Linked DNA regions of Homo sapiens: all the other regions are linked to region 3. Evidence: fine-mapped expression QTL. A gene starts in region 3. Each other region holds a variant in brackets. All regions are shown on one strand. Distances are from middle to middle. Region 1 overlaps CCDC66 (coiled-coil domain containing 66). Region 2 has its middle 44 kb from the start of CCDC66. Region 3 holds the start of CCDC66 (coiled-coil domain containing 66). Region 4 has its middle 16 kb from the start of TASOR.

Region 1 (8,212 bases), 43 kb before region 3:
AGAAGACAAGAAATAACTAAGATTAGAGCAGAACTGTAGGAGATACAGACACGAAACCCTTCAAAAAAAATCAATGAATCCAGGAGCTGGCTTTTTGAAAAGATCAACAAAATAGACAGACCACTAGCCAGACTAATAAGAAGAAAAGAGAGAAGAATCAAACAGACGCAATAAAAAATGATAAAGGGGGCCGGGTGCCGTGCCTCACACCTGTAATCCCAGTACTTTGGGAGGCCGAGGTGGGTGGATCACGAGGTTGGGAGATTGAGACCATCCTGGCTAACACGGTGAAACCCCGTCTCTACTAAAAAATACAAAAAATTAGCTGGGTGTGATGGTGGGCGCCTGTAGTCCCAGCTACTCAGGAGGCTGAGGCAGGAGAATGGCGTGAACCTGGGAGGCAGAGCTTGCAGTGAGCCGAGATCATGCCACTGCACTCCAGCCTGGGTGACAGAGCAACACTCTGTCTCAAAAAAAAAAAAAAAAAATGATAAAGGGGATATCACCGCTGTTCCCACAGAAATACAAACTACCATCAAAGAATACTATAAACACCTCTACACAAATAAACTAGAAAATCTAGAAGAAATGGATAAATTCCTGGACACATACACCCTCCCAAGTCTAAACCAAGAAGAAGACGAATCCCTGAAGATACCAATAACCAGGTCTGAAATTGAGGCAATAATTAATAGCCTACCAACCAAAAGAAGTCCAGGACCAGACGGATTCACAGCAGAATTCTACCAGAGGTACAAAGAGGAGCTGGTACCATTCCTTCTGAAACTATTCCAATCAATAGAAATAGAGGGAATCCTCCCTAATTAATTTTATGAGACCAACATCATCCTGATACCAAAACCTGGCAGAGACACAACAACAACAAAAAAAGAGAATTTCAGGCCAATATCCCTGATGAACATTGATGCAAAAATCCTCAACAAAATACTGTCAAATCAAATCCAGCAGCACATCAAAAAGCTTATCCAGCACGATCAAGTTGGCTTCATATCTGGGATGCAAGGCTGGTTCATCATATGGAAATCAGTAAACGTAATCTATTCACATAAACAGAACCAATGACAAAAACCACATGATTATCTCAATAGTTGCACAAAAAGCCTTCAACAAAATTCAACATCCCTTCATGCTAAAAACTCTCAATAAACTAGGTATTGATGGAACGTATCTAAAAATAATAAGAGCTACTTATGACAAACCCACAGCCAATATCATACTGAATGGGCAAAAACTGGAAGCATTCCCTTGAAAAACGGCAAAAGGCAAGGATGCCCTCTCTCTCCACTCCTATTCAACATAGTATTGGAAGTTCTGGCCAAGGCAATCAGGCATGAGAAAGAAATAAAGGGTATTCAAATAGGAAAAGAGGAAGTTAAGTTGTCTCTGTTTGCAGATGACATGATTGTATATTTAGAAAACCCCATTGTCTCAGCCCCAAATCTCCTTAAGCTGATAAGCAACTTCAGCAAAGTCTCAGGATACAAAATCAATGTGCAAAAATCACAAGCATTCTTATACACCAATAACAGACAAACAGCCAAATCATGAGTGAACTCCCATTCACAACTGCTACTAAGAGAATAAAATACCTAGGAATACAACTTACAAGGGACGTGAAGGACCTCTTTAAGGAGAACTACAAACCACTGCTCAAGGAAATAAAAGAGGACACAAACAAATGGAAAAACACTCCATACTCATGGATAGGAAGAATTAATATTGTGAAAATGACCATATTGCCCAAAGTAATGTACAGATTCAATGCTATCCCCATCAAGCTACCACTCACTTTCTTCACAGAATTGGAAAAAACTACTTTAAATTTCCTATGGAATCAAAAAACAGCCCAAACAGCCAACACAATCCTAACCAAAAAGAACAAAGCTGGAGGCATCATGCTGTCTCACTTCAAACTATACTACAAGGTTACAATAACCAAAGCAGCATGGTACTGGTACCAAAACAGATATATAGATGAATAGAACAGAAGAGAGGCCTCAGAAATAACACCACACACCCACAACCATCTGATCTTTGACAAACCTGACACAAACAAGCAATGGGGAAAGGATTCCTTACTTCATAAATGGTGTTGGGAAAACTGGCTAGCCATATGCAGAAAACTGAAACTGGACTCCTTCCTTACACCTTATACAAAAATTAACTCAAGATGGAATAAAGACTTAAACGTAAGACCTAAAACCATAAAAACCCTAGAAGTAAACCTAGGCAGTATCATTCAGGACACAGGCATGGACAAAATGACTAAAACACCAAAAGCAATGGCAACAAAAGCTGAAATTGACAAATGGGATCTAATTAAACTAAAGAACTTCTGCACAGCAAAAGAAACTATCATCAGAGTGAACAGGCAACCCACAGAATGGCAGACAATTTCTGCAATCTACCCATCTGACAAAGGGCTAATATTCAAAATCTACAAAGAACCTAAACAAATTTACAAGAAAAAAACAACCCCATCAAAAAGTAGGCAAAGGACTATGAGCAGACACTTCTCAAAAGAAGACATTTATGCAGCCAACAAACATATGGAGAAAAGCTCATCATCACTGGTCATTAGAGAAATGCAAATCAAAACCACAATGAGATACCATCTCATGCCAGTTAGAATGGCGATCATTAAAAAGTCAGGAAACAACAGATGCTGGAGAGGATGTGGTGAAATAGGAACGCTTTTACACTGTTGGTGGGAGCGTAAATTAGTTCAACCATTGTGGAAGACAGTGTGGCAATTCCTCAAGGATCCAGAACCAGAACTACCATTCGACCCAGCAATCCCATTACTAGGTATATACCGAAGGGATTATAAATCATTCTACTATAAAGATACATGCAGCCGGGCGCGGTGGCTCATGCCTGTAATCCCAGCACTTTTGGAGGCCAAGGTAGCCCGATCATGGGGTCAGGAGATTGAGACCATCCTGGCCAACATGGTGAAATGCTCTCTGTACTAAAAATACAAAAATTAGCCAGGCACGGTGGCGGGCACCTATAATCCCAGCTACTTGGGAGGGTGGGGCAGGAGAATCACTTGAACCCGGGAGGCAGAGGTCGCAGTGAGCTGAGATTGCACCACTGCACTCCAGCCTGGCGACAGAGCAAGACTCTGTCTCAAAAAAAAAAAAAAAAAAGATAAGTGCACATGTATGTTTATTGCAGCACTACAGCAAAGACTTGGAACCAACCCAAATGCCCATCAATGATAGACTCGATAAAGAAAATGTGGCACATATACACCATGGAATACTATGCAGCCATAAAAAAGGATGAGTGCATGTCCTTTGCAGGGACATGGATGAAGCTGGAAACCATAATTCTCAGCAAACTAACACAAGAACAGAAAACCAAACACTGCACGTTCTCACTCATAAGTGGGAGTTGAACCATGAGAACACATGGACACAGAACATCTCATCCAACAGTTAAGAGAATACACATTCTTTTCATTAGCATAAGGATTATTCTCCAGGACAGATCATATGTTAGGACACAAAACAAATCTTAACAAACTTTAAAAAACTGACTTCATATCAAGTATCTTCTCAAACCACAATGGAACAAAACCAGTAATCAATAATGAGAGGAACACTGGCAACTGTACCAATAAATAGAAATTAAACCACATGCTTCTGAACAAGCATCCAGTCAAGGAAAAAATTTAAAAAAATTCTTGAAAAAAATGAAAATTTAAACCCAACATACCAAAACCTATGGGATACAGCAAAAGCAGTGCTAAGAGGGAAATTTTAGCAATAAGTGCCTATATCAAAAAAGTGGAAACATTTCAAAAAGCAATCTAATGATGTACCTAAAAGGAACTAGAAAAGAACAAACCCCAAATTAGTGGAAAGAAATAACAAACACTAGAGCAGAATTAAACAAAATAGAGACACACAATACAAAGGATCAAAGAAACAAAGATTTTTTAAAAGATAAACAAAACCAATAAGCTACTTGATAGACTAACCAAGAACCGAAGAGAGAAGACCCAAATAAAATCAGGAATAAAAAAGGAGAAATTACAACTGATACCACAGAAATACAAGAGATCATCAGAGGCTATTATGAACAACTACACACAGACAAACTAGAAAATCTAGAAGAAATGGATAAATTCCTGGAGACACACAAGCTATCAAGATTGAATCAGGAAGAAATAGAAAACCTGAACAGACCAGTAATGAGTAATAAGACTGAATTGGTAATAAAAAAGTCTCCCAACAAAGGAAAGTCCAGGACCAGACAACTTCACTAATGAATTCTACCAAACTATCAAAGAACTAACCAATTCTTCCCAAACTATTCCAAAAAAATCAAAGAGGAGGGAATTTTCCCTAACTCATTCTGTGAGGCCAGCATTACCCTGATACCAAAGCCAGAGAAGGACACAACAAAAAAGAACAAAGAAAATTACAGGCCACTATTTTTGATGAACATAGATGCAAAAATTCTCAACAAAATACTAGCAAACTCAATCCAACAGCACATGAGAAAACTAATACCCAATAATTAAGTGGGATTTATCCCAGGGATGCAGGCAGAATTCAACATACACAAATCAATAAATGTGATACATCACATCAACAGAATGAAAGACAAAAACCATATGATCATCTCAGTAGACAAGAAAAAACATTTCACAAAATTCAACATCACTAAATAATAAAAACTCTCAACAAACTAGGCACAGAAGGTATATACCTTAAAATAATAAAGACTATATATGACAAACCCACAGCTAACATCATACTTAATGGGGAAAAGCTGAAAGCCTTTCCCCTAAGAGCTAAAACAAAACAAGGATGCCCACTTTCACCATTCTTATTCAACATAGCAACAGAAGTCCTAGCCAGAGCAACCAGGCAAGATAAATAAAAGGCACCTAAATTAGAAAATAAATAAAATAAATAAAATAGAAAATAAATAAAATAAAA[TAAAAA/A]GTCCCCTATGCAAAAATTACCCAGGCATGGTGGCACACACCTGTAATTCCAGCTACTTGGGTGGCTGAGGCATGGGAATTGCTTGAACCCAGAAGGTGGAGGTTGTAGTGATCCAACATTGTGCCACTGAAGTCCAGCCTAGGTGACAGAGCTGTCTCAAAACAAACAAACAAACAAACAAACAAACAAAACAAAACAAAACAAACTAAAATCAAAACGTCCCCTTTGCTGATGTTATCATCTTATATCTTAAAAACCCTAGACTCCACTGGCACAGTGGCTCATGCCTGAAATCCCAGCACTTTGGGAGGCCAAGGCGGGTGGATCACCTGAGGTCAGGAGTTCGAGACCAGCCTGGCCAACACTGCGAAACCCCATCTCTACTAAAAAAATACAAAAATTACAAGGTGCGGTGGCACATGCCTGTAGTCCCAGCTACTTGGAAGGCTGAGGCAGGAGAATCGCTTGAACCTGTGAGGCAGAGGTTGCAGTGGGATGAGATCGCGCCACTGCACTCCAGCCTAGGCAACAGAGCGAGGCTCTGTCTCAAAAAAAAAAAAAAACCCCAAAACAAAACCTAGACTCCACAAAAACCTCACATCTGATCAATAAATTCAGTAAAGTTGCAGAATACAAAATCAACATACAAAAATCAGTAGCATTTCTATACACTAGCTGAGAAATAAAGAAGGCAATCCCACCTACAATAGCTACAAAACAATAAAATATCTAGGAATAAATTTAACCAAGGGGGTTACACATTTCTACATAAAAAACTACAAAACAGATGAAATAAACGAAAGAGGATACAAACAAATGGCAAGACATCCCATGTTCATGGATCAGAAGAATTATGCCTAAGGCAATCTACAAATTCAATGCTATCTCTATCAAAATACCACCTTCATTTTTCACAGAAGTAGAAAAAATTCAAAACTTTCTATGAAACCAAAAAAGAGCCGTAATAACCAAATCAAGGTGGATCAAAAGAACAAAGCTGAAGGCATCACACTACCTGACTTCAAAATACATTACAAGACTATAGGAACCACAACAGCATGGTATTGGTATAAAAACAGACATATAGATCAATGGAACAGAATAGGGAATCCAGAAATAAATCCATGTATTTACAGCCAACTGATTTTCAACAAAAGTGTCAAGAACATAGTTGGGGAAAGCACACACTCTTCAATAAATAATGCTTGGAAAATTGGATATCTATATGCAGAGGAATGAAATTGGAGCCCCATCTCTCACCATATTCAAAAAACAATTCAAGGGCTGGTGTGGTAGCTCATGCCTGTAATCCTAGCACTTTGGGAGGGCAAGGCAGGTGGATCATTTAAGGTCAGGAGTTCAAGACCAGCCTGGCCAACATGGTGAAACCCCATCTGTACTAAAAAAAAAAAAAAAAAATTAGCCAGGTGTGGTGGCATGCACCCGTAATCCCAGCTACTCAGGAGGCTGAGCAGGGAGAATTGCTTGAACCTGGGAGGTGGAGGCGGCAGTGAGCTGATCACGTCACTGCATTCCAGGGTGACAGTCTGAGACTCCACTTCAAAAAAAAAAAAAAAAAAAATTCAAGATGGATTAAATAGTTAAATGTATGACCCAAAAATGTAAACCTACTAGAAGAAAACATACGGAAAACACTTCAAGACACTGGTATAGAGTTTGTGGTCGAGACCTCAAAAACACAGGGACCAAAAACATACGAATAGGGCTACATTGAACTAAAAATCTTCTGCACGGGAAAGGAAACAATAACCAGAGTGAAAGAGACAGTCTGTCCCCCAGTTTGAATATTCAGTAGTTTGAATATTCAATAGCTTGCATATTCAGTAGTTTGAATATCTGCAAACTATTCATCCAACAAAGGGCTACTATCCAGAATGCCTAAGAAACTCAAACTAAACACACACACACACCAAAAATCCAAATAATTCCATTAAAAAGTGGGCAAAGAACATTAATAAACATTTTTCTAAAGAAGACATATAAATGGCAAACAGGTACATGAAAAAATGCTCAACATTACTAATCACAGAAATGCAAATCAAACCCATAATGAGATATCATATCGCCTCAGTTAGAATGGCTATTACTAAAAAGACAAAAATGCTGGGCCCGGTGGCTCATGCCTGTAATCCCAGCACTCTGGGAGGCTGAGGTTGGAGGACTGTTTGAGGCAAGGAGCTCGAAACCAGTCTGGTCAACATAGTGAGACTGTGTCTCTATAAAAGAAAAAAATTAACATTAGCCTGACATGGTGGCGCATGCTTGTAATATCAGCTACTGGGGAGGCTCGGGCAGCAGGATTGCTTGAGCCCAGGGGTATGAGGCTACAGTGAGCCATGATTATGCCACTGCATACCAGACTGCGCAGCAGAGCAAGACCCTGTCTCAAAAACAAGCAAACAAACAAACATACCAAAAGACAAAAACTAACAGATACTGCCAAGGAAGCGGAGAAAAGGGAATCCTTATACATTGTTAGTGGGAATGTAAATAAATACAGTCACTATGGAAAACAGTATGGAGACGTCTCAAAAAACTAAAAATGGAACTACCATATGATCCAGCATTCCCAGTACTGGATATTTATCGAAAGAACATGAAATCTGTATATCAAAAGGAAACCTGCACTCTTGTGCTAACTGTAGCACTATTTACAATCTGAGTGTCCATTGATGAACAAATAGATAAACAAAATGTGGTATATACACAATGGGATACTATTTGGCCATAAAGAAAGAATAGAATCTTGTCATTTACAGCAACACAGATGGGACTGGACGTCATTATGTTAAGTGAAATAAGCCAGGTATATAAAGATAAACATCACATGTTCCCACTCATATGTGGGAGCTAAAAAAGTAGGTCTCAACGAGCTAAAGAATGGAATGATAGGTATCAAAGGCTGGGAAGGGTGTGTGTGAGGGTGGTAGTGATCAAGAGAGGTAGGTTAATGGGTACAAACATATGGTTAGATGAAAGGAATAAGTTCTAATGTTTGATAGCAATAGTAAGGTGACTATGGTCAGCAACAATGTATTATATATTTCAAATTGGCTAGTAAACTTGAAATGTTCCCAACACAGAAATGATAAATACTCAAGGTGATAGATACCAGAATACTCTGGCTGAATCATTACGCATTCTACATATATAACAAAATATCATATGTATCCTATAAATATATAAAACATTATATATCAATTTTTAAA
Region 2 (8,212 bases), 42 kb after region 3:
GTTCAATGTCACCAGCAATTAGGAAACTGCACTCTGAAACAGCAGTGAGAGCACTCATCATCTACCATTTGGCAGATTTTTAATGTCTGAATTCAAACTGTAAAAATTATTTGAATAGGTAGTACATTTAAAGGGTTCAACGATAAAGATGAAAATAGGTATAAAAAATGTATGTGGAAAGTTCCCTTTCCACCTCTTTCTCCCAGATCTCTTGTGCCTTTTCCCTCAATGCAATCCGTTATCAATATCTTGTGTAATTTCCCAGACACTGTCTTTAATGTACATACAGTAAAACATGTATATTTACTACCACCACTTTAAACACTAGTGGTTATGCACTGTATAAATTGCTCTGCATCCTGCTTTGTTCCTCTACCTTCAAGAGCTTCCCCTATGGATATATACAGTGAGTCCTTGCTATTTTGTTAATAGATGCACAGAACTTCATTGTGCAGATATACAACAATCTGTCCAAATGTTTCCCTATTGGTGAAATATTTTTTCAGTATTTTTCCATTAACAGTGCAGTGTACATTCATGACTTCCCATAAGTGTGAATATGTCTGTGGAGTAGTTTTTGGATGCAGTTTTGGTAATTGTGGAAAAATGTTTAAAGGTTGATTGCATACAGCATCAGTGAGGGTTTAGAGAAATGAGGAGCCCACGGTTTTTTTGCAGGGGGGCACAATCTTACTGTATATCAACACCAGAAATGTATATACCCTTTGATCCAAAAATTGTATTTCTAGGAATCTCCCCTACAAAAATTCTTATATACGAACACAAAGTTGTATGTTCCAGGATTGTTTGAAATAGCAAAACATTGGAATCAACCTAAATATATAGCAATCTTAGTAGTAAACAAATTATGGTACATTTACACTATGAAATATTCTGAAGAAGTAAAAAGAAAGAGGTAGATCTTTATAAATTGACACGGAAGAGCAACCCTCTAAAATGTGTTAATGTGAAAATCATGTTGCCTGTGTGTTGTGGTCCCTCATAAGATAGATGGATAGGTAGATAGCTATCTAGATATCTATCTAGATATCTCATAAATCTCTTTTTCTCTCTTCTTCCCTCCCTTCTTCCCTTTCTCCCCTTTCCTCCCTTCTTTCCTTTCTACGAATGCGTAGGAAAATAATTAGGGGCATATATATGTATTTACACACACACATATATAAGATATTATTCCATGTGACTATATTTATGTGTTCCATTTTCATATTGCTATAAAGTATACCTGACTGAGTAATTTACAAAGGAAAGAGGTTTAATTGACTCACAGTTCCACATGGTTGGGGAGGCCTCAAGAAACTTATAATCATGGCAGAAGGAGAAGGGGAAACAAGGCATGTCTTACATGGTGGCAGGAGAGAGAGTGTGCAGGGGAAACTGCCACTTTCAAATCATCAGATCTGATGAGAACTCCCTCACTATCATGAGAACAGCATGGGGAAAACCACCCCCATGATCCAGTCACCTCCCACCAGGTCCCTCCCTCGACATGTTGGGATTACAATTCTAGATGAAATTTAGGGTGGGGACACAGAGACGAATCATATCAATATATATACACAATCACTAATGTTAGTGTGTGTGTGTATATACACACCACATATGTATACACACTGTTAGTGAATGTGTGTGTATACATATAAACACACACACTAATGTTATACTAATATTAGTATATATCTAATGGTAATATACTAGTAATATACTAATGTTAGTATATATATGTTAGTGTGTATATATAACATATATAGTATATATGTATTATGTATTATATATACATATATGTTCATAGTATATATGTATATATGTACACTATAATACATGTATTATACTATGTATACTATATATACTTCATATAGTATAATATATGTATTATACTGTATATGTGTACTGTATATACATATATAGTATAATATATGTAATATATACTATATATAGTATAATACATGTATTATACTATACATGTATATATATAGTACATGTATTATACTATGTATTATACTATGTATAATATACTATAATACATGTATTATATTATGTATAATATACTATAATACATGTATTATACTATGTATAATATACTATAATACATGTATTATACTATGTATAATATACTATAATACATGTATTATACTACGTGTATACGTGTATTATGTACATAATACATGTATTATGCTACGTGCATACGTGTATTATGTACATAATACATGTATTATGCTACGTGCATACGTGTATTATGTACATAATACATTTATTATGCTACGTGCATACGTGTATTATGTACATAATACATGTATTATGCTACGTGCATACGTGTATTATGTACATAATACATGTATTATGCTACGTGCATACGTGTATTATGTACATAATACATGTATTATGCTACGTGCATACGTGTATTATGTACATAATACATGTATTATGCTACGTGCATACGTGTATTATGTACATAATACATGTATTATGCTACGTGCATACGTGTATTATGTACATAATACATGTATTATGCTACGTGCATACGTGTATTATGTACATAATACATGTAATATGCTATGTGTATACTTGTATTATATACTATAATACATGTAATATGCTACGTGTATACGTGTATTATATACTACAATACACGTATATACTACGTGTATACGTGTATTATATACTACAATACACGTATATACTACGTGTATACGTGTATTATATACTACAATACACGTATATACTACGTGTATACGTGTATTATATACTATAATACACGTATATGCTATGTGTATGCGTGTATTATATACTACAATACACGTATATGCTATGTGTATACATGTATGATATACTATAAAATACATGTATTATACTATGTGTATACAGGTATTATATACTATAATACATGTATTATACTATGTGTATACATGTATTATATACTATAAAATACATGTGTCATACTATGTGTATACATGTATTATATACTATAAAATACATGTGTTATACTATGTGTATACATGTATTATATACTATAATACATGTGTTATACTATGTGTATACATGTATTATATACTATAATACATGTGTTATACTATGTGTATACATGTATTATATACTATAATACATGTGTTATACTATGTGTATACATGTATTATATACTATAATACATGTGTTATACTATGTGTATACATGTATTATATACTATAATACATGTGTTATACTATGTGTATACATGTATTATATACTATAATACATGTGTTATACTATGTGTATACATGTATTATATACTATAATACATGTGTTATACTATGTATAACACATGTATTATATACTATAATACATGTGTTATACTATGTATAATACATGTATTATATGCTATAATACATGTGTTATACTATGTATAATACATGTATTATATACTATAATACACGTTTATACTATGTGTATACATGTATTATATACTACAATACACGTATATACTATGTGTATACATGTATTATATACTACAATACACGTATATACTATGTGTATACATGTATTATATACTACAATACACGTATATACTATGTGTATACATGTATTATATACTACAATACACGTATGTACTATGTGTATACATGTATTATATACTACAATACACGTATATACTATGTGTATACATGTATTATATACTACAATACACGTATTATACTATGTGTATACATGTATTATATACTGTAATACACGTATTATACTATGTATAATACATGTATTATATACTATAATACATGTGTTATACTATGTGTATACATGTATTATATACTATAATACATGTTTATACTATGTATATACATGTATTATATACTATAATACATGTTTATACTATGTATATACATGTATTATATACTATAATACATGTATTATACTATGTTTATAGTATAATACATATAATATATAATATACATTAATGTTTATAGTATAATACATATAATATATAATATACATTAATGTATATAGTATATATATCACATACACACAATATATAGTATATATACTATATATGTATACAATAGTATGTATAGTATATATACATATACTATATACATATACATTATACTATATATGCATATAGTATAATATATGTATTATGCTATATATGCATATATAGTATAATATATGTATTATACTATATATACATATATATGTAGTATAATGTGTATATATACACAATACACACACACACACACACACACACACACACACACACACACACACTAACATGTAGCAGTAGTAACCTAAGGAGAGAGAAAAAGAAATAGAATGAAAGGGGAATTTCTATTTTTTATTTTTATTTTTGTATTGTTGAATGGTTTTTACAATGAACACATATTCACATATAACTTCTGTAATTTAACAAATGATATTTTAAAATACCAAGAAAAATTCTAGTATAAGTTATTAACTGCCCCTCTAAGACTTTCTTTTTCTTTCTTCCCCCACCCTGTTTTTTGTTAATCATGAGAATTTTCAAGTATCTATAAAGTATAGAAAATAATATTACAGACAACCACGTACCCATCATCCAAATTTAACAGATGTTAACATTTTGCCAAATTTGCTTCAGATTCTGTTCTAACAAAAAGACAGAAAATGTTACTGATAATAGTTAAAGGTTTGTGCCCTACACTCTCGAGGTGGTGATTTTCTTGGAGTTGTGTATTATTTACAATTTTTTAGATCAGAAAATAAGGTGCCCTCAGATGATTTAAAAGAAAAAAGTCTTGACCAGGCATGGTGACTCACGCATGTAATCTCAGCACTTTGGGAGGCCGAGGTGGGCCTGTGGTCAGGAGTTTGAGACCAGCCTGACCAACGCAGAGAAACCCCATCTCTACTAAAAATACAAAATTAGCCGGACAAGCTGGCGCATGGCTGTAATCCCGGCTACTTGGGAGGCTGAGGCAGGAGAATCGCTTGAACCTGGGAGGAAGAGGTTGCGGTGAGCTGAGATCACACCATTGCACCCCAGCCTGGGCTCGAAACTCCATCACAAAAAAAAAAAAAAAAAAA[G/AAG]AAAAAGTCTTAAGTGCAGTTTTCCACATTTTGTAGAAAACTTCCTGTAAGAGGGATTAGAAATTGCATCTTTCTTTTTCCTTTGAAATACTTGGAGGGTTTGCCATTCTCCCCTTCTGGTCCCTCATCTCACTCCCATCTCCCTGAATGAGCATCTCCCCGAATGAACATCTCCCCTGGGCTCTTGACTTCTTCTCTCTGTTCCATCTTGGCAGCCACTGCCAGACTATCTTCCTAAAGCCAGGTTTCTCAACTTTGTTACTACTGTCATTTTGTGTGGATAATTCTTTGTTGTGGGGGCTGTTCTGTGCATTGTACAGTGTTTAGCAGCATCCCTGGCCTCTGACCACTAGATGCTTTCCCCTGTTGTGACAACCATAAGTGTCTCCAGCTATTGCCACATGTGCCCCTGGGGAGCAAAATTGCCTGTGGTTAAGAATTACTGCACTAAATTGTGATTTTTGATATCACTTCCATGCTCCTAAAAGTCCCATGGTTCTCTACTGCCCATCACACCATGTTCAAACTCTCCTCACACCTGCCACTGGCCCCATGTGATTTCAAGTCACCTCTGCTCCCACCTCCTCCTGTTTTTGTGCTTCATCCCATCAATCAGTCACTACCTCCCTGCTCTCCTAGTCCTCTTGTATTAAGCTAAATCTCACAGTTGGGCTTTTGTGCATGCTTTCCTGCATCTTATGGTGTCATATCTTTTAGTTTCTGCCTGTCCAACTGTTGCTTGCCTTTCAAGGTCAGGCGTAAGTCCCATTGCTTCATATAATGTTTCCTGGTTTATTTGGCCCTTGTTTGTGTCCTCTTGATTTGGAAGCAGTAAGCTCTGGTGGGTCTGTGAATGGACTTCAGGATCAGATGAATGTGGGTATAGCCCTGACACTCCTACACATGAACTGTGTTACATGGGCAACTAGTTTAGTCTCTCTATGCTTTGTCTCCTCAATAGCATAATGGGGACAGCCATCCCTACCTTACAGGCTGGTTGACAGGATTAAATTACATTTTTTAGGCCCCACTTAGCTCCCGAGTATATATACTACTTCACATGTGTTTGTCTTAACTGTGCAAATGGAATGAAGTTTATTTGTTTGAGACAGGGACTCTGCCACCTAGGCTGGAGTGCAGTCATGCAATCATAGCTCACTGCAGCCTCAACTCCTGGGTTCAAGCAATCCTCCCACTTCGGCCTGCCAAAGAGCTGTGATTACAGGCACGAGCCGCTGCGCCTAGCCAGAATGAAGTTCTTTAAAGAAGTATGTTAAACTTCTCCTCTGTCGTCTCTTGTGACAGATGCTTTGTAGATATCCAATAGGTATCACTGACTGCATAGGGAAAATGCAGCAGTACATACCTACCAATTACTATACTGCTTCTGTACGTACTCACAACCTTGGGGTCCTTGATCTTTCATTCCTTCCAAATGAGTTTCAGAAGGATTAGGTTTATCACCTTGATTTTTTTTTATTTTTTAATGATCATTGGTGTATAATAGGTGTATACATTTATGGGGCACATGTAATGTTTTGATACAGGCATACAATGTGTAACAATAAAATCAGGGTAATTGGGGTATCCATCTACTTAAGTATTTATCATTTCTTTGTGTTAGGAACATTCCAATTTCAGTCTTTTAGTTGTTTTGAAATATACAATAAGTTATTATTGACCATAGTCACCTGTTATACTACCAGATTCTAGAATTATTTATTCTATCTAACTATATTTTTGTACCCATTAACCTTCCCCAGTTTATCCTCACTACCCTTCCCAGCATCTGGTAACCATCATTCTACTATTTCCGTGAGATCCATTGTTTTAATTTTAACAATATATATTACCAGGGGCTAAGTGGGCTCCCACATATGAGAATATGCACAATTTGTCTTTCTGTGCATGGCTTGTTTCACTTAACGTAACGTCCTCCAGTTCCATCCATGCTGTTGTAAATGACAGGATCTTCTTTTTTAATGGTTGAATAATATTCCATTGTGTATATGTGCCACATTTACTTTATCCATTCATCCGCTGATGGACATTTAGATTCCAAATCTTGGCTATTGTGAATAGTGCTGCCATAAATATGGAAGTGCAGATATTTCTTCGATATACTGATTTTCTTTCTTTTGGATATATCCCTAGCAGTGGGATTGCTGGATCGTATGGTAGCTCTATTTTTAGTTTTTTGAGGAACTTCCATACTGTTCTCCACAGTAGCTGTACTAATTTACATTCCCACCGACAGTGTACGAGGGTTCCCTTTCCTCCACATCCCTGCCAGCATTTGTTATTGCCTGTCTTTTGAATAAAAGCCATTTTAACTGGGATGAGATGATATCTCATTGCAGATTTGATTTGCATTTCTCTGATGGTTAATGATGTTAAACATTTTTTCATACACTTCTTGTCCATTTCTATGTCTTCTTTTGAGAAATGTCTATTCAGATCTTTTGCCTTTTTTTTTTTTTTTTTTTTTTTTGAGACCGAGTCTCCCTCTCTTGCCCAGGCTGGAGTGCAGTGGTGCGATCTCAGCTCATTGCAGGCTCCGCCTCCCGGGTTCACGCCATTCTCCTGCCTCAGCCTCCGGAGTAGCTGGGACTACAGGCGCCCGCCACCACGCCCAGCTAATTTTTTGTATTTTTAGTAGAGACGGGGTTTCACCGTGTTATCCAGGATGGTCTCGATCTCCTCACCTTGTGATCTGCCCGCCTCGGCCTCCCAAAGTGTTGGGATTACAGGCATGAGCCACCATGTCCGGCCTGCCCTTTTAATATTTATTTATTTATTTGTTTATTTATTTTTGAGACAGAGTCTCGCTCTGTCCCCCAGGCTGCAGTGCAGTGGCGCCATCTCGGCTCACTGCAACCTCCACTCGCGGGTTCACGCCATTCTTCTGCCTCAGCCTCCCGAGTAGTTGGGACTACAGGCGCCCGCCACCACGCCCGGCTAATTTTATTTTGTATTTTTATTAGAGACGGGGTTTCTCTATGTTAGCCAGGATGGTCTCGATCTCCTGACCTCGCAATCTGCGCGCCTCAGCCTCCCAAAGTGCTGGGATTACAGGCGTGAGCCACCACGCCCCGCCCTACTTATTATTTATTTATTTATTTAATTTGAGACAGAGTCTGACACTGTTGCCTGGGTTGGAGTGCAA
Region 3 (8,212 bases):
TATACATGACTAGTGGCTTCCATATTCAATAATACTGATTTTATTAATGAACACTTCCATTAACACAGATGCTTTACTGAATAGCACTTATCTAGAGAAAGAGGTTCTATTGGGCTAAACCTAAAATGATTCAATTTCTGTGAAAGGACCAATCTGAAAGCAAGAAAATAATAACTCCTCACTATAATTCCAAACCCCTTAGAACACTTGACATTTCCCAGGAATTATTTTCTAACCACTATAAATAAAACTGCATTTTACATTTGAAAACAGGTCAGGTCAAAGTTATACGGCTTACCTTCACAGAAATTTTTGATTTATGTTCTACAAAAGAAAAAAGAAATTACTAAACTATCCACCAAAAGCATACTAAGGTGGTAATGCAAGAAAACTGTAATTAATATTGTTATAAGATTTTAAGCTAGCAACATTATCCTCGAAAGCATAAACTTTAGATCTTGACTGAGTATTTTTTTCTAATCCAGTTCAAGGATTTACTTCTATTTTATTTTTGTTTTTTATCTTTCCAAGGTAAAACTATAAACAGAAAAAAAAATGCGAAGGAGAAGGTACCAAAGTACACTGAGTTTAAAAACGAATACTAAAAGTGACTTTAGCATTTTACGGTGGTCTTACTATAAACTTTTCTCAAATGATACATTCTTTACATGCAAAGAACATAATTACATAAATTTTACTTGTATTATTCATCAGGCAATGAGGATATTTGCTATATGGATATAATGAACACGCAATATACTGGAACATTAAATGTTATGAGTCTGAATACTGACAGTAGTAAGCAGTGTTGTAATCTGATTTTATTTGGCTAGAAGGAAATCTGCAGAAGTTTGAGGAAACAGCTTTTTCTAAAATATCATTTAAATATCACTCTATTACAAGCAAAAAGTCTGTTGAACTAATATAAATTTTATGTATGAATTTAAAAGTTAACATTTCAGATTTCTGTAACACAACATACCATATGGAGACAATATTAGCTTGGTTTTTCCATCCAGTAATTCAGTTTCAAGCTTTAAACCATCTCTGTAATAAAAAAAGAAAGTTGTCTCTCATTTTTAACAAACCGCAACATTTTAAATAACCAGAAATGTTCATTTGAACCTGACAATAAATCCATTATTTTGAATTTATGCAGGAATCTTGTACACATCGAACCAGTGTTTTAATTAAAAACGTTTGCAATCCAAGATAAAACCCACAACTACAGGGGGAAAATTCTTGAAACTCTTCAATACTACAAGCATTGTTATCATTAACCTGAAATCTCATTTTGTTATTGGTAAACTATAAATTAAGTTATCATACCACCATTTTTTAATAATGCTGTTACCAAAACTCCTCACATAAGTTAAAGGAACAAGATATATTTAACCGCCATTCATTAGTTTCATAATGAACTCATGACTAAAACATTCTATGGAGTGCTGGAGCATCGATATGACTACTAACAATGCCATCAAGGTTAGTAACTGCTTGAGCAAAGAGTACCACTTTCAATATTTCAAATAATACATAGTGATATTTAGTATGGTGCTTTATACGTGCATATCAGAAGCAAAGGCATAAAGTAACAGTAGCCACTGCCAACAAAACTTGAACGTCTGTTAAGGTCCTAAAACTCCACTGAGAACAAAAATGGCAGCCCATACATACAGTCCATAATTCAGAGAGAGAAAATTAAATCCAGCAAGCCAGTCAAGGGAGAGAGAGGCTGGGAAAGGTCTGATTAGGAATGCGAAATTTGCGGTGTTGCTCAGGTAGGGGAAATCAAATTACCTCACCTTAACTATTAAAGGTAAAACACTGGAAAGAATAGGTTTTACGGCTTTCCTTATTGTAGGGTTATGAACAGTTCGTGTTTATGTTGGTGAAACGTCACCAAGAAAGAAAAGAGCTTCAATGGTAAAGTACCTTCAATGACGCACTGCACTGTAATCTCCTTAAGGGACACACTATCTTATTTATTTCCATATCCCCAGATTCTAAAACATAATAACATTTGCTGAACGATGTGTAGTTAGGTCTGAGTTTGGTGGCTTCTCATCTTCTCAAAATATCAAACTTGCGAGTGATGAAGACCATGCACCAGCCCTTTTTATTTATTCACCCCTACTTAAGGAGCGCCTACTAGGTGTTAGGCACTGGTACTACATCGATTTCTTGAGAAGCCTGGTTCCCCGCCTCGTGGGCCTAAAACGAATTTGGGCGTTTCAACATTCTGCAAGACTCCAAAAACAAGGTGGCGAAGAACCCGGGGCATGGGCCAGGAGTCCTCCCCAGGAGCCGCCACGCTTCCTCTAACTGTCTCGTCATTTCTCTCCTTTCCTCCTCACCTCTCTTCCCTCCTCATCCTGAGGTAAATAAGGGACCGAAAGGGGATCACTGGCAGTTTTAATGCTAGTCATTAAGTGAAAACGTAAGGTCTGTGGAGTCGCTAAGGGCCGACCCATCTGCCTCGATCTTCTACCCGAGAACTGGGCTCTGCCCCTCTCGGCGGCGCAGGTTGGGAACGTTCTCCAGTAAAGACTCCAAGGGACAACCCAGACACACATGCCTCCCTCTCCGCTGACGACCACCTTGCTTACCCCAGCTTACCCCAGCTTACCCCTGCTTACCCCAAGTTCATGGCCTGACCTCGCACTCTCTCCACAGAACGCTCAAGCCCCTTGTGTACGTCGGTTGCCGCCGCCGCTCAGCAAGCGCTACGCCAATTGGATATAGGGGTGCCGGCGAGCTGAGCAAGTGGACCAATCAGGGTGGGGCATGCTGGCGGGTGCGCTGAGCTGGGCCGGGGCTCCCGCGGGGACGGTTGCGTATGCCGTTTGTTCCCCTTTTGTGCCCCGTTTGTGCCGTTTGTTCCCCTACGCACAGCGGAATTTGGCCTGACCCGGCTTATGAGTCTAAAGCTTCGGTGGCGGAGACCTGCGCTTCTCGCAATTGTAGCCTTCCAAAGCGCGTACACAGACACACACACACACACACACACACACACACACACACACACACACACACACACACACACACACCTTTTTGGGGTCACCATTTGCAAGTAAGTTACAGACATTGTAACACTTAACCCTTTAACATTGCAGACATTGTAACACTTAACCCTTTAACATTGCAGCATGTATCTCCTAAGAATAGATGTTCTGCTACATAACCGCAGTACAATTATTATACCTAAGATCATTAATTTCATAATAATTCTCTTCCCGATTTAATTTCCCCCACTTGTCCTAAGAATATCTTATAGGCATTTTATTTAGAAAGCAAGAGCCAATCGCGCCACTGCATTCCAGCAGCTTGGGCGACAGAGTGAGACTCCGTCTCAAAAAAAAAAAAAAAAAATGCAAGAGCCGATCAAGGATCACACATTACATTTGGTTGTTAAGTATCTTTGCACACACTCTTTCCAGACAAAAACAATGAAAGGTATTAATTATTAAATGCCTGACAAACCTTTACTTTTTTATTTTTTATTGTTGTAATATGTGTGTTAAAATTTGCTATTTTTAGCCATTTTCAAGTGACAATTCCATGATACAATGTTGTGGAATACGCCAGTATATTTTTCCAAAAGCTTTTTAGTACCCCCAAATAAAAATTCTGTACCCATTAAGCAACAACTTCCCATTTTCCTCTCCCCTCAATCCTAAGAAACCTCTAATCTTATTTCTGTCTCTAGGAATTTGCCTATTATAGATACTTCATGTCATAAAAGTGGAATCATACAATATTTGTCCTTTTGTGTCTTCTCTCAAGTAACATAATGTATTCAAGGTGCATCCATGTTGTAGGATGTATCAGAGCTTCATATCTGTTTATGATTGAATAGTATTCCATTCTATGTATATATATACCACAATTCGTTTACTCATTCATCCATTAATAGACATTTGGGTTGTTTCCATCTTTTAGTTATTGTGAATAATGCTGTAGTGAACACTGATGTACAAGTATCTGTTTGAATCCCTATTTTCAATTTTCTTGGTATACACCTAAGAGTGGAATTACTGGGTCACATGGTAATTCTATGGTTAACTTTTCGAGAAACTGCCAAACTGTTTTCATAACAGTTGCAGCATCTTACATTTCTGCCAGCAATGTATATGAGGTTCTAATTTCTTCACCCCAACACTTGCTTTTTCTTTTTCTTTTCTTTCTTTTTTTTTTTTTTTTAGAGACAGGGTTTTGCTCTGTCACCCAGGCCGCCTACATTGGTACGAACATAACACTGTAACCTCGAACTCCTGGTCTTAAATGATCCTCCTGTCTCAGCCTCCCAAGTAGCTAGGGCTACAGGCATGCACCACTACGCCTGGTTAATTTTTAAAAAAATTTTTGTAGAGACAGAGTCTGTTTACGTTGCCCAGGCTGGTCTCAAACTCCTGGCCTCAAGTAGTCCTCCCACCTCAGACTCCCAAAGTGCTGGGATTATAGGCGTGAGCCTGTAGCCAGAATGATTTCTAAAATGTGAATCTGCTTAATTCACTCTGCTTCTTAAAATCTCTCAATATAGGAGAACGTCCTTAACTTGATAAGCAATATCTACAAAAAATCTCCTAGAGACCGGGTGTGGTGGCTTATGCCTGTAATTGCAGCACTTTGGAAGGCCAAGGCAGGAGGATTGCTTGAGTGTAGGAGTTCGAGACCAGCCTGGGCAACATGGTGAGACTCTATCTCTATTTTTTAAAAAAATCCTGTAGAGCCCAATATCACACTTAACAGTGAAAAAGTGCAACTTTTCCACTGAGATTGGGAACAAGAGCAAGGCAAGAATGTCTCTTCTTATCACTGCTTTTCAACATCACACTGGAAGTCTGAGCTAATCCTAAGACTTAGCCTTAGTCCTAGCTAAGACAAGAAAAAGAAATAAGTATACAGACTGGGAAGAAAGAAAGAAAACTTTGTTTGCAGATGACATGATTGTCTATGTAGAAAATCTGAAAGAAGCCACAAAAAATCCTCCTGGAATTAATAAGTGAGTATAGTGGCATTGCAGAATGCAAGGTTAATACACAAAAGCCAATTGCTTTCCTGTATGTCAGCAATGAACAAATAGAAGCTGAAAATAAAAACACGATACTGCCCAGGCGCGGTGGCTCACGCCTATAATCCCAGCACTTTGGGAGGCTGAGGCGGGCGGATCACGAGGTCAGGAGATCGAGACTGTCCTGGCTAACACGGTGAAACCCCGTCTCTACTAAAAATACAAAAAATTAGCTGCGTGTGGTTGCAGACGCCTGTAGTCCCAGCTACTCAGGAGGCTGAGGCGGGAGAATGGCCTGAACCCAGGAGGTGGAGCTTGCAGTGAGCCGAGATCGCACCACTGCACTCCAGCCTGGGCAACAGAGAGAGACTCCGTCACAAAAACAAACAAACAAACAAACAATACTATTCACATTAGCATCCCATCAAATCAAATGCTTAGGTATAGATCTAACAATATATGTATAAAATCTATATGAGGAAAATTACAAAACTCTGATGAAAGAAATCAAAGAACTAAATAAATGGAGAGATATTCTGTGTTTATAGATTGGAAGACTCAATATTGTCAAGGTGTCAGTTCTTCCCAACTTGATCTATAGATTCAACACTATGCCAATCAAAATCCCAGCAAGTTATTTTGTGGATATCAACAAACCGAATCTAAAGTTTATATGGAGAGACAAAAGACCCAGAACAGCGAAAACAATATTGAAGATGAACAAAGTCAGAAGACTGACACTACCCGACATCAAGACTTACTATAAAGCTACAGTAATTAAAACAGTGTAGTATTAGTGAAAGAATAAACAAATAGATAAATAATAAAACAGAGTGCCTAGAAATAGACCCACATAAATAGTCAACCGGTCTTTGACAAAGGAGTAAAGCCAAAACAAAGGAGAAAAGATTATCTTTCAACAAATGGTGCTGGAACAATTGGATATCCACATGCAAAAATATTAGTCTGACCCAAACCTTGCATTCTTCACAAAAATGAACTCAATATAGAACAGAGTCCTAAATGTAAAATGCAGAACTGTATAACTCCTAGAAGAAAACATAGGAGAAAATCTAGATGACTTTGGGTTTGATGATAACTTTTTTTTAACAAGCCCACAGCTAACATCATATGATGATAACTGTTTAGATGCAACACCAAAGGCATGATCCATCAAAGAAAGAATTGATAAGCTGGACTTCATTAAAATCAAAATTTTCCATTTTGTAAAAGACACCGATAAGAGAAAGAAAAGATAAGCCACATTCTAAGAGAGAATATTTACCAAAGACATATCAGATAAAGGACTGTTATTCAAAATATAAGAAAAGATCTTTAAACTCAACAATAAGAACATAAACAACCCAATTTTAAAAATGAGCCAAAGACCTTGATGAATGCCTCACCTAAAAAGATGCTGAATACAGATGGCAAATAACCATATGCAAGATGCTATATGTCATATGTCATCAGGAAATGCAAAATAAGACAACAATGAAATACTATTACACACCTATTAGAATGGTCAAACTCTAGATCACTGATAACACAAAGTGCTGGTGAGGATGCAATCTCATTCATTGTTGGTGAGAATGCAAAATGGTGTAGCCACTTGGAAGACATCTTGGTGATTTTCTTTTAGTTTTTTGTTTTCGTTGTTGAGACAGGGTCTCACTGTGTTGTCCAGGCTGGAGTGCAGTAGCGTGATTTTGGCCCACTGCAGTCTTGAACTGCTGGGCTCAAGAAATCCTCCCACCTCAGCCTCCTGAGTAGCTAGGACTACAGGCGTGTGCCACCATGCCTAGCTAATTTTTGTATTTTTTTGTGGAGATGGGCTTTTGCCATGTTGCCAAAGCTGATCTTGAACTCCTGAGCTCAAGGGATCCACCTGCCTCGGCCTTCCAAAGTGCTGGAATTATAGGCATGTGCCACTGTACCTGGCATTTGTGGTTTCTTACAGAACTAAACATATTCCTACCATGTGCGTGACCCAGCAATTGCATTATTTGGTATTTATCCAAAGGCGTTGAAAATGTATGTCCACAGGAAAACCTACACATGGATGTTTATAGCAGCTTTATTCATAATTGTCAAAACTTGAAAACAACCAGGATGTCCTTCAGTAGGTGAATGCATAAACTGTGGCACATCCTGACAATGAAATATTATTCAGAACTAAGAAAAAATGAGCTTGATACCAAGTCATGAAAAGGCATGGAGAAAATGTAAATTGTTATTACTAAGTGAAAGAACCAATTTGGAAAGGCTACAAACTGTATGAGTTCGATTATATGGCATTCTGGAAAAGGCAAAACTATGGAGACAGTAAAAAGATCAGTGGTTGCCAGGGATTGGAAGAAGGAGGGATAAATAGCCAGAGCACAGAGGATTTTCAGGGCAGTAAAACTACTCTGTATGATACTGTAATAGTGGATACATGTTGATATTGTGTCCCCACCCAAATCTCATCTTGAATTGTGACCCTCATAATCCCCATAACCCCCATGTGTGAAGGGAGAGACCAGGTGGAGGTAGTTGAATCATGGGGGCAGTTTCCCACATGCTGTTCTTGTGATAGTGAATGAGTTCTCACAAGATCTGATGGTTTTATGAGGAGCTCTTCCCCCTTTGCTCAGCCCTCCTCCTTCCTGTTGTCTTGTGAAGAGGGCACCTTGCTTCCCTGTCACCTCCCACTGTGATTGTAAGTTTCCTGAGGCCTCCCCAGCCATGCTGAACTATGAGTCAATTAAACCTCTTTCTTTGATAAATTACCCAGTGTTGGGCAGTTCTTTATAGCCGTATGAAAACGGACTAATAAACATGTCATTTTCATCCAAACCCGTAAAATGCACAAGAGCAAGAGCAAACTCTAATGGAAGCTATGAACTTTGAGCAAGAATGGTTTGTCCTGATAAATTCATCCATTGTAACAAATGTACTACTCTAGTCGGGGATGTTGACAAAGAGGTAGGTTGGGGAAGGGGCAGAAAGTATATGGGAAATCTCTGTATTTCCTGTTAATTTTGCAGCGAACCTAAAATCACTCTTATAAAACAGTCTATTAAAATAAAAAACTCCCAATAATTAAAAAACCCTATTGCTCCTGATACAAAGCACGAAGGGCTTAACAATCTCATGAGTCCCATCTTGACCTTTTAAATTTCTTTCTTTTTTTTTTGAGACGGAGTCTCGCTCTGT
Region 4 (8,212 bases), 140 kb before region 3:
CAACATATTTTTTAAAAGAATCCCATTGTACCTTAAATCATGACTCTTTGTAAAAGAGTTGGAAAACCACCAGGCAGATGACCCCAGTAAGACATTGTGGCTCGTCTTTATTCCCTCTTGGCATTGCCCCAGGTCCTATCCATCTAAGAGCCTTCCGCAGTCTTTGAACTCTGGGAAGAATTCTGTCCTGCCTAAATATAAGTATGGTAATACTGTAATTCCACAAATACTATGAGATTGTAGTTGTGGAACTACAGAACTCTTCTGGGGGAATATTTTAAAAATATTATTAGGTAATACAGAAAAGCTGCTAGGGTTTTGAAAACTGCTTAGTGAAGTTTTGCTGCCCTCTGCTGGAATTAAGCTGTATGCTCTTGAATGTCTGGTTTTCAACAGAAGGATTATAAAGCATTTAGTATGCATTGTTAGAATTTCATGGAGGTGTCTCAGGCGTTCTGCAAGCGTCTGGCACAATTTTTTTTTTTTTGAGATGGAATATCACTTTGTTGCCCAGTGTGGAGTGCAGTGGCAAGATCTCAGCTCACTACAACCTCCGCCTCCCGGGTTCAAGGGATTACAGGCACGCACATGATGCCTGGCTATATTTTTGTATTTTCAGTGGAGACAAGGTTTCACCATGTTGGCCAGGCTGGTCTTGAACTCCTGACCTCAGGTGATCCGCCCGCCTCAGCCTCCCAAGTCCTGGGATTACAGGTGTGAGCCACCATGCCCAGCCCAAATTTTATATTCTAAACATATTTAAACTATTTTCACAATAAAAATAATATTGTGTATTTAAATGTTACATATCTTAGTTTGACATACCAGATATTGCCAGAATCTAGTCTTGGAATGGAAAGGGAAAACCTTCCTAAACTAACCATCCACTCTTCTTATCTGTTCTTACATGTTTGTGTTCCGTCACTCCATTTCAAGCCCTACGGCCTTCCGCTAAACCATTTCAATAAGGAAAACACTTATAATGTTTTATAGATGATGTGATTTTTAGCTTGAAAATTGTTAACTATTGTAAGGTCCTCTACATCTGAATTATGAATTGGAAGTGTTTATATCCTTTATTTGGCTTATTTTAAAACACCTGTAATTCTAGCACTTTGGGAGGCCAAGCTGGGTGAATTGCTTGAGCTCAGGAGTTCAAGATCAGCCTGGGCCACAGAGTGAAACCCCATCTCTACAGAAAATACAAAAATTAGCTGGGTGCAGTGGTACTCACCTGCATAGTTCCAGCTACCTGGGAGGCTGAGGTGGGAGGGTTGCTTAAGCCCAGGGGCCAGAGGTTTCAGTGAGCCTAGATCTTGCCACTACACTCCAGCCTGAGAGACAGAGTCTCAAAAACAAAACAAAACAACAAAACAAAACAAAACACCAAAAACAATTAAAACACCTTGGCATGGTGGCTCATGCCTGTAATCCCAGCACTTGGGAGGCCAAGGCGGGCGGATCACGAGGTCAGGAGATTGAGGCCATTCTGGTCAACATGGTGAAACCCCATCTCTACTAAAAATACAAAAAAATTAGCTGGGCATGGTGGCGCGTGCCTGTAATCCCAGCTACTTGGGAGGTTGAGGCAGGAGAATCGCTTGAACCTGGCAAGCGGAGGTTCAGTGAGCCAAGATCGAGCCACTGCACTTCAGCCTGGCAACAGAGTGAGACTCCATCTCAAAACAACAACAACAACAACAACAAAAACACGTAACAAAACACCTGGCATCATCATTTTATGGTTTATTATTTGGTCCTTTCAGAAAGTTATAAATTACTGACATGTTAAAAAAAGAATGTGGTGGGGAGTGGGGGAAAAACAACAGCATCCTTTAGTAACTGTGATTACTAGTACTTTAGTAAAACCCATCTCTACTTCTTTCCTGCTTCTTTGAAATTCTCTCACACTGTAGTGCAACCTCAGTTTGTATCTAGGCTGACAATGACCAAGGATGGAGAAGTTCTAAGCCATCCTTACCTAGATTTTTGCAACAATGTCCTAAGTAGTTTTGTTGACTCCAATCCACCTAAAATCCACCTTCTATAACGAGAACCAGAATGCTCACACCTGTAATCAAGCACTTTGGGTTGCCAAGGTGGGAGGACTGCTTGAGCCCAGGGGTTCGAAACCAGCCTGATAACACAGGTAGACTCCCGTCTCTGCAAAAAATAAGAAAATTAGCTGGGTGTGGTGGCACACACCTGTGGTCCCAGCTACTCGGGGAGCTGAGGTAGGAGGATAGCTTGGGCCCTGGAAGTTTCGGCTGCAGTGATCTGTGATTGTGCCACTGCACTCCAGCCTGGGTGACCGAGTGAGACCCTAAGAAAGAAAGGAAGAAAGAAGGAAGGAAGGAAGGAAGGAGAAGGAATGAAGGAAGGAAGGAGAAGGAAGGAAGGAGAAAGAAAGGACAGGAAGAGAAAGAAAAAAGGAAAGAGAGAAAGAAATGAAAAGTTAAAAACAACAAAGAAACCCAGAATGATCTGTCTAAAATGCACGACTGATTGGGTCAGCTTCTACCTAAAATCCTTAACTTCTTATATTTTGCATCAGGATTAAATCCAAATCCCTTAATGTGGCATATGTTCTGTGATTCAGCTAGAGCCTTCAGACCAGCCCGCCTCTCCACTTGCCGCCTCATCCTGTATACCACAACAGCCAACTGTGCTTCCCTGCTGCAGAAACCTTTTTGTTTCTCACATTGGTATCTTTGTTCTTTTTTTCTCTCACCGTTTCTCTACCTGGAATTCCACTCATGCCATTGCCCTTCCTCTTCATCTCTGACATTCACTGACTCAGCTAGTCTCTACAAGATAGTCTTCTTCTCTTTTGCTAGTGTATTTACAAGCAGGAACTGTGTCTTATGTTTTATTCCCTGGGTCAGATATAGTTCTTAGCAAACACAAATTGTTCAAGAACTAATTGCTAAGTAATTGCATGTGTTTAGTAAGTGGGTGCCAGTGATGTCAATGTAGTAAGCTCCAGATTATCAGTGTCCCAGCATGAGGGTATGAGCATTCTCCTGTCTTTTGAATGTCTTAGGTTATTGTAGACAGACTGTAGTTAAAGGTACTTGAGGCTTTGAGACAGAATTGTATGCTATTTTGTCTTTTTTTTTTTTTTAATTGAGACGGAGTCTCACTCTGTTGCCCAGGCTGGAGTGCAGTGGCGTGATCTCGGTTCACTGCAACCTCCGCCTCCCAGGTTCAACCAATTCTTCTGCCTCAGCCTCCTAGGTAGCTGGGATTACAGGCACACACCACCACTTCCGGCTAATTTTTGTATTTTTAGTAGAGACAGGGATTTCACCATGTTGGTCAGGCTGGTCTCGAACTCCTGACCTCGTGATGGCCGCCTGCCTCAGCCTCCCAAAATGCTGGGATTACAGGCATGAGCCTCTGCGCCCAGGCTTTTACATTTAAAAGAATGTAAAACTTGCATTTGACCCCACTTCAAACTCCTTCAGGTAAGAAATAGATGTCTTAGTCAGTTTGGGCTGCTGTAACAGAGTACCATATTGCTGGTGGCTTATAAACAACAAACACTTATTTCTCACAGTTCTAGAGGGTGGGAAGTTTGACATCAAGGCACTGGCAGATCCAGTGTCTGGTGAGGAACCACTCCCTCATTCGTGGACAGCCATCTTTCCACTGCGTCCTCACATGGCTAAAGGGGTAAAGGGGCTCTCTGAAGTCTGTTTTATAAAGACGCTAATCCCATGCATGAGGGCTCCACCCTCATGACCTAGTTACCTCCCAAAGGTCCTACTTCTTTATCTGACAATTATCAAGGATGGTGAAATCCTAAGAGTTTCAACATATGAATTTGGGTGGGACATAAAAATTTAGTCTGTAGCACTAGGGAAGTGGAATTTTGCTTATTATCAGGCTGGGCATGGTGGCTCACACCTGGAATCCCAGCACTTTGGGAGGCCAAGGTAGGCAGATCACTTGAACCCAGGAGTTCCAGACCAACCTGGGCAATATTGCACAATCCCATCTCTACAAAAAATACAAATTAGCCCGGGTGGTGGTGCATGCCTGTGGTCCCAGCTACTTGGGAGGCTGAGGTGGGAGGATCACCTGAGCCAGAGATGTCAAGGCTGCAGTGAGCTGTGATCTCACCACTGCACTCCAGCCTGGGTGGAAAAAAAAAAAAAAAAAAATATATATATATATATATATACACACACACACACACACACACACACACACACATACACACACACACATATATACACATATATATATACATATATAGTATCTTTATAC[T/A]TATTTAGTATAAGAGATTTGGAACGACTTTGACAAAATTAAATATCTTACGTTGCTTATTATATTTCTAGTAAACAGAAATTCAACAAAGGGCCATAGGACTTGTAATAACAGATTGATTAAGAGAGTGAAGAGTTCTTTAGCACTGAAAGAAAGGAGAGCATTGGCGGGTGCGGTGGCTCACACCTGTAATCCCAGCACTTTGGGAGGCTGAGGCAGGTGGATCACCTGATGTCAGGAGTTCGAGACCAGCCTGGCCAACATAGTGAAACCCCGTCTCTACTAAAACTACAAAAATCAGCAGGGTGTGGTGGCGCACACCTGTAGTCCCAGACTCGGGAGGCTGAGGCAGGAGAATCACTTGAACCCAAGAGGCAGAGGTTGCAGTGAGCCGAGATCATGCCATTGCACTCCAGCCTGGGCGACAAGAGTAAAACTCCATCTCAAAAAAAAAAAAAAAAAAGAAAGAGAAAGAAAGGAAGGAAGGAAGGAAGGAAGGAGAGCATCATCTGGTGAGTGTTAACTACTCCACATCTCTAACAGGAATGTGGATAAGCATCTTCTAAAGGAATTATGGATTTATACTATTTCAATACTATTTTTATCAAGGAAATGTATATGAATAGTATTTTATTTTTAATATATATTTTTTGTTGTTGCTAAGTAAGCAAAACTGATTTTTTGGACCATTATTATCATATATTCTGTCTCTAGAGCAACTCAGATTCTCAAGAGAATGGACTAATCACCAAATGGCACAAACTGCAAGTAGAATTCCTCTAGATAAGTAACTGAACACCACATTTTCTTCAATTAGATAAATGTCTGGTGTTATGTTTCTATAATTTATGTAAATTGCAACCATAGACCTACCAATTACCCTATTTAAACTTGGCTGGTTCCCCAAAGATTTCTTAGGAAAAAACTTATTATTAATTGCCTATCTTTTCAGAGCCACTGGGCCGGGGGTGGGGGAAGGGTAGGGTACTGAAACTTGAACTCGTATTTTTTGTAAAGCTCTATTTTTGAGAATCTCTTTTAACTGGAATGTTTTACATTAAATGAAAAAATAATTGGGAAAAAATATTTTTTTCACTTGGGAGTATTATGGGGAAGGACATTTGAAATGAGGCATTTAAAGCCAAACCATTATCTAACTTTTTGTTTCCAAGAGTTGAAATGGAACTTTTTGGGGAAAAGAATCTGGAATATTTAATGTTGTTAAGTCACTGGGCTTTAGGTTTAATGTTCTTTTTGAAGAGGGTTAATGTGAATTAACTCTAATACGAATCATTAAAATATAAAAACCAGGAAAAGAGCCAGGCACGGTAACTCACGCCTGGAATCCCAGCACTTTGGGAGGCCGAGGCGGGTGGATCACCTGAGGTTGGGAGTTCGAGACCAGCCTGACCAACATGGAGAAACCCTGTCTCTACTAAAAATACAAAATTAGCCAGGCGTGGTAGCGCATGCCTGTAATCCTAGCTACTCTGGGGGCTGAGGCAGGAGAATCACTTGAACCTGGGAAGTGGAGGTTGCAGTGAGCTGAGATGGCGCCATTGCACTCCAGCCTGGGCAACAAGAGTGAAACTCCATCTCAAAAAAAAAAAAAAAAAAAAAAAAATCAGGAAAAGACACAGCTAGCACTTTTGCTACTCACATATTCACATCATGGCTGGATATAGACATGCATAAGGTGGAGGGTCCAATGCCAATTGCTGGTGCTTTAATTGACCCAGGCCATATCCCATTGTAATCTTTGCGTTATCTTGCTATTATTGTATTGGTCAAATTTAGAATTTTTTCTTTTCTTTTTTTGGTGGGGGCAGGTGGAGAGAAAACAGGAAATGATTTACTCAGTTCTTTCTACACAATTAACATAAATTTAAGCATAGTTGCCTGTCAAATAACTTCCTGTATTATATACCTGAGAAAGAATTTCCCCCAAGCTATTAGTGGAACACTATATCAACCTCCTTTTTTAAAAAACAGTTTAAGGCTGGGTGTGGGGGTTCACGCCTGTAAGTAATTCCAGCACTTTGGGTGGCCGAGGTGGGAGGATCACTTGAGGCTAGGAGTTCAAGTTTGCAGTGAGCTGTGATCATGCCAGCCTGGGCTACAGAGCAAGACTCCGTCTCAAAAAAATTAAATAAATAAATAAAAATAAAAAATAATAAAAAACCGGTTTTAGATCCTTTGGTAGTTCATAAATTTCAGCACATTACCCGTCAGACATGAAAAAAAAAAGTTTCATTGATATAATTCATGCACCATACAATTCACTGACTTAAAGCATACAATTCAATCGTCTTTAAGATAATCACAGAATTATGCAACTACATTTTCATCACCTTAAAAAGAACCTGTACCCTTTAGCTATCATCCCCAAATTCCCTCATTAACCTAGCCCTAGGAAACCACTGATCTAATTTCTGTCTGTATTGATTTCCCTGTTCTGGACATTTCCTATAAACAGAATCATACCATATGCAGCATTTTGTGACTGGCTTCTTTTTCTTAGCACAGTATTTTCCAGGTTCATCCATGTTGCAGGATGTATCAGTTCTTCACTCCTTTTTATGGACAAATAATATTCCATTGTATAAATGTAAGATATCTTGTTCATCTCTTCATATGTTGATGTACTTTTGCTAATTTCTCTTAAAATCAGCATTTTGTAGCACCAACCATATAGCAAAAGGTCATGTCAAATATCTTTTTATTACCAGGCTTTTATGGACTGGGGAGAAAATGTCCAAAATTAAGTCTGAATACCTTTCTGGTACTATGAAGCACCAAATAATAAAACAATAACCTGAATCATGTGACTTAAAAGGGAAGCAGCTCTCAATTTAGTTATTGGTCAGCCAAAGAAATTGGATGACTTTGATTACTTCTGTCTGCCCAGAAATCATATATAAATCTGTAGGAGCTACGAGAAATTAGTGAAGAAACTTGTGTTTTTAAGGGAGTTGGTGGGAATATTCCTGTTCACTCAGAAAAATGAAAGGACAAAACAAGGGAGAGAAATGATACATAGAGGAATGATTAAAATGCCCAGTGGGTAACTTTGTAATTTTTCTTGATTTCCATTGAGAGTCTTGATTAACAAAGTAGCCATCCCAGAGGCCTATAAGCAAGTAGAACTGGGGTAGTTGCAAGGGTTTGCAATTAGATTTAGGAGGCAAATCTGAGTCCTGTTCCCTCACTTACTGGTGATGTTTCCTTGAGCAAGGCAGTTAAGTTACCATTTCCTCATCTGACAAATGTAACAATGTTTCTCTGACAATGCTGGGAAGATTAAATGAGGCAATGGGTATAGAAGCATCAGAAAACAAACAGGGTCAGGATGGATCTGCTTGTTTACAGCTGTAACCTCAGAAGCCCATCTTAGGGCCTGGTAGCAGGTTGAGAGAATAAGTGAAGCATTTGGTAAATTGCAAGGTGTTATTCACATGTTCTCTCTGTATTGTTACTTCTTTTCCTCCAACTTATTCACTGTCTTCCAAATTGAGTGCTGAGATGGGTTATCTTGAAAATAGGAAGTTCCAGACAACTTTCTTTTGGCCTCTTTTATCATAAAAACATAAAATCGAAGACACTTTTAATTTGAAAATTTTTTTTTTCACACATTCCACCTACGTTTGCACTTTTGTAGTGTACCACTTCCTCTTGAGCATTTTTTTTCTCTTTGTGTAACTTGGATTGTTGGCACCAGCCTCCTTCTTACTTACAGAGCTCCACCAACCACAACGTGAAGTTAGTATAAATTTAGATCTTTGTTCAGATGATAATGGCAGTGGTGTAAATGACTCTATAACTGCGTCTATACTGGCCAGTCAGCTGATAGAAGAAAACCATCACTTCCAATTCTTAAACCCTATTGATTTCAACTAGGCTTGAATTTGGCAAATGAAGCTCATCTATTTTTCAAATGCAG

Evidence for each region. PIP is the estimated chance that this variant, and not a neighbour inherited with it, causes the effect.
Region 1: its variant is fine-mapped to the expression of CCDC66 in whole blood (INTERVAL, PIP 0.93).
Region 2: its variant is fine-mapped to the expression of CCDC66 in monocytes (BLUEPRINT, PIP 0.95). The same link has a PIP of 0.9 or more in subcutaneous fat.
Region 4: its variant is fine-mapped to the expression of CCDC66 in whole blood (TOPMed, PIP above 0.99).

Annotation. Positions count from the first base shown.
Region 1 is chr3:56,595,111-56,603,322 of GRCh38, reverse strand. All of the region lies in intron 10 of CCDC66 (coiled-coil domain containing 66), which reads right to left. Among named protein-coding and RNA genes, the nearest start is that of CCDC66, 42 kb to the right of the region's middle. The variant TAAAAA/A (reference allele first, on the strand shown) is at 4,977.
Region 2 is chr3:56,509,442-56,517,653 of GRCh38, reverse strand. No RefSeq gene overlaps it. Among named protein-coding and RNA genes, the nearest start is that of CCDC66, 44 kb to the left of the region's middle. The variant G/AAG (reference allele first, on the strand shown) is at 5,047.
Region 3 is chr3:56,551,681-56,559,892 of GRCh38, reverse strand. CCDC66 (coiled-coil domain containing 66) reads right to left here and starts at 2,718. Exons shown (of 18, transcript NM_001141947.3): 1 at 2,640-2,718; 2 at 983-1,047; 3 at 299-324. The coding sequence starts at 2,650. RefSeq lists enhancers at 2,303-2,462, 1,931-2,602, 2,603-3,275.
Region 4 is chr3:56,694,829-56,703,040 of GRCh38, reverse strand. No RefSeq gene overlaps it. Among named protein-coding and RNA genes, the nearest start is that of TASOR, 16 kb to the right of the region's middle. The variant T/A (reference allele first, on the strand shown) is at 4,273.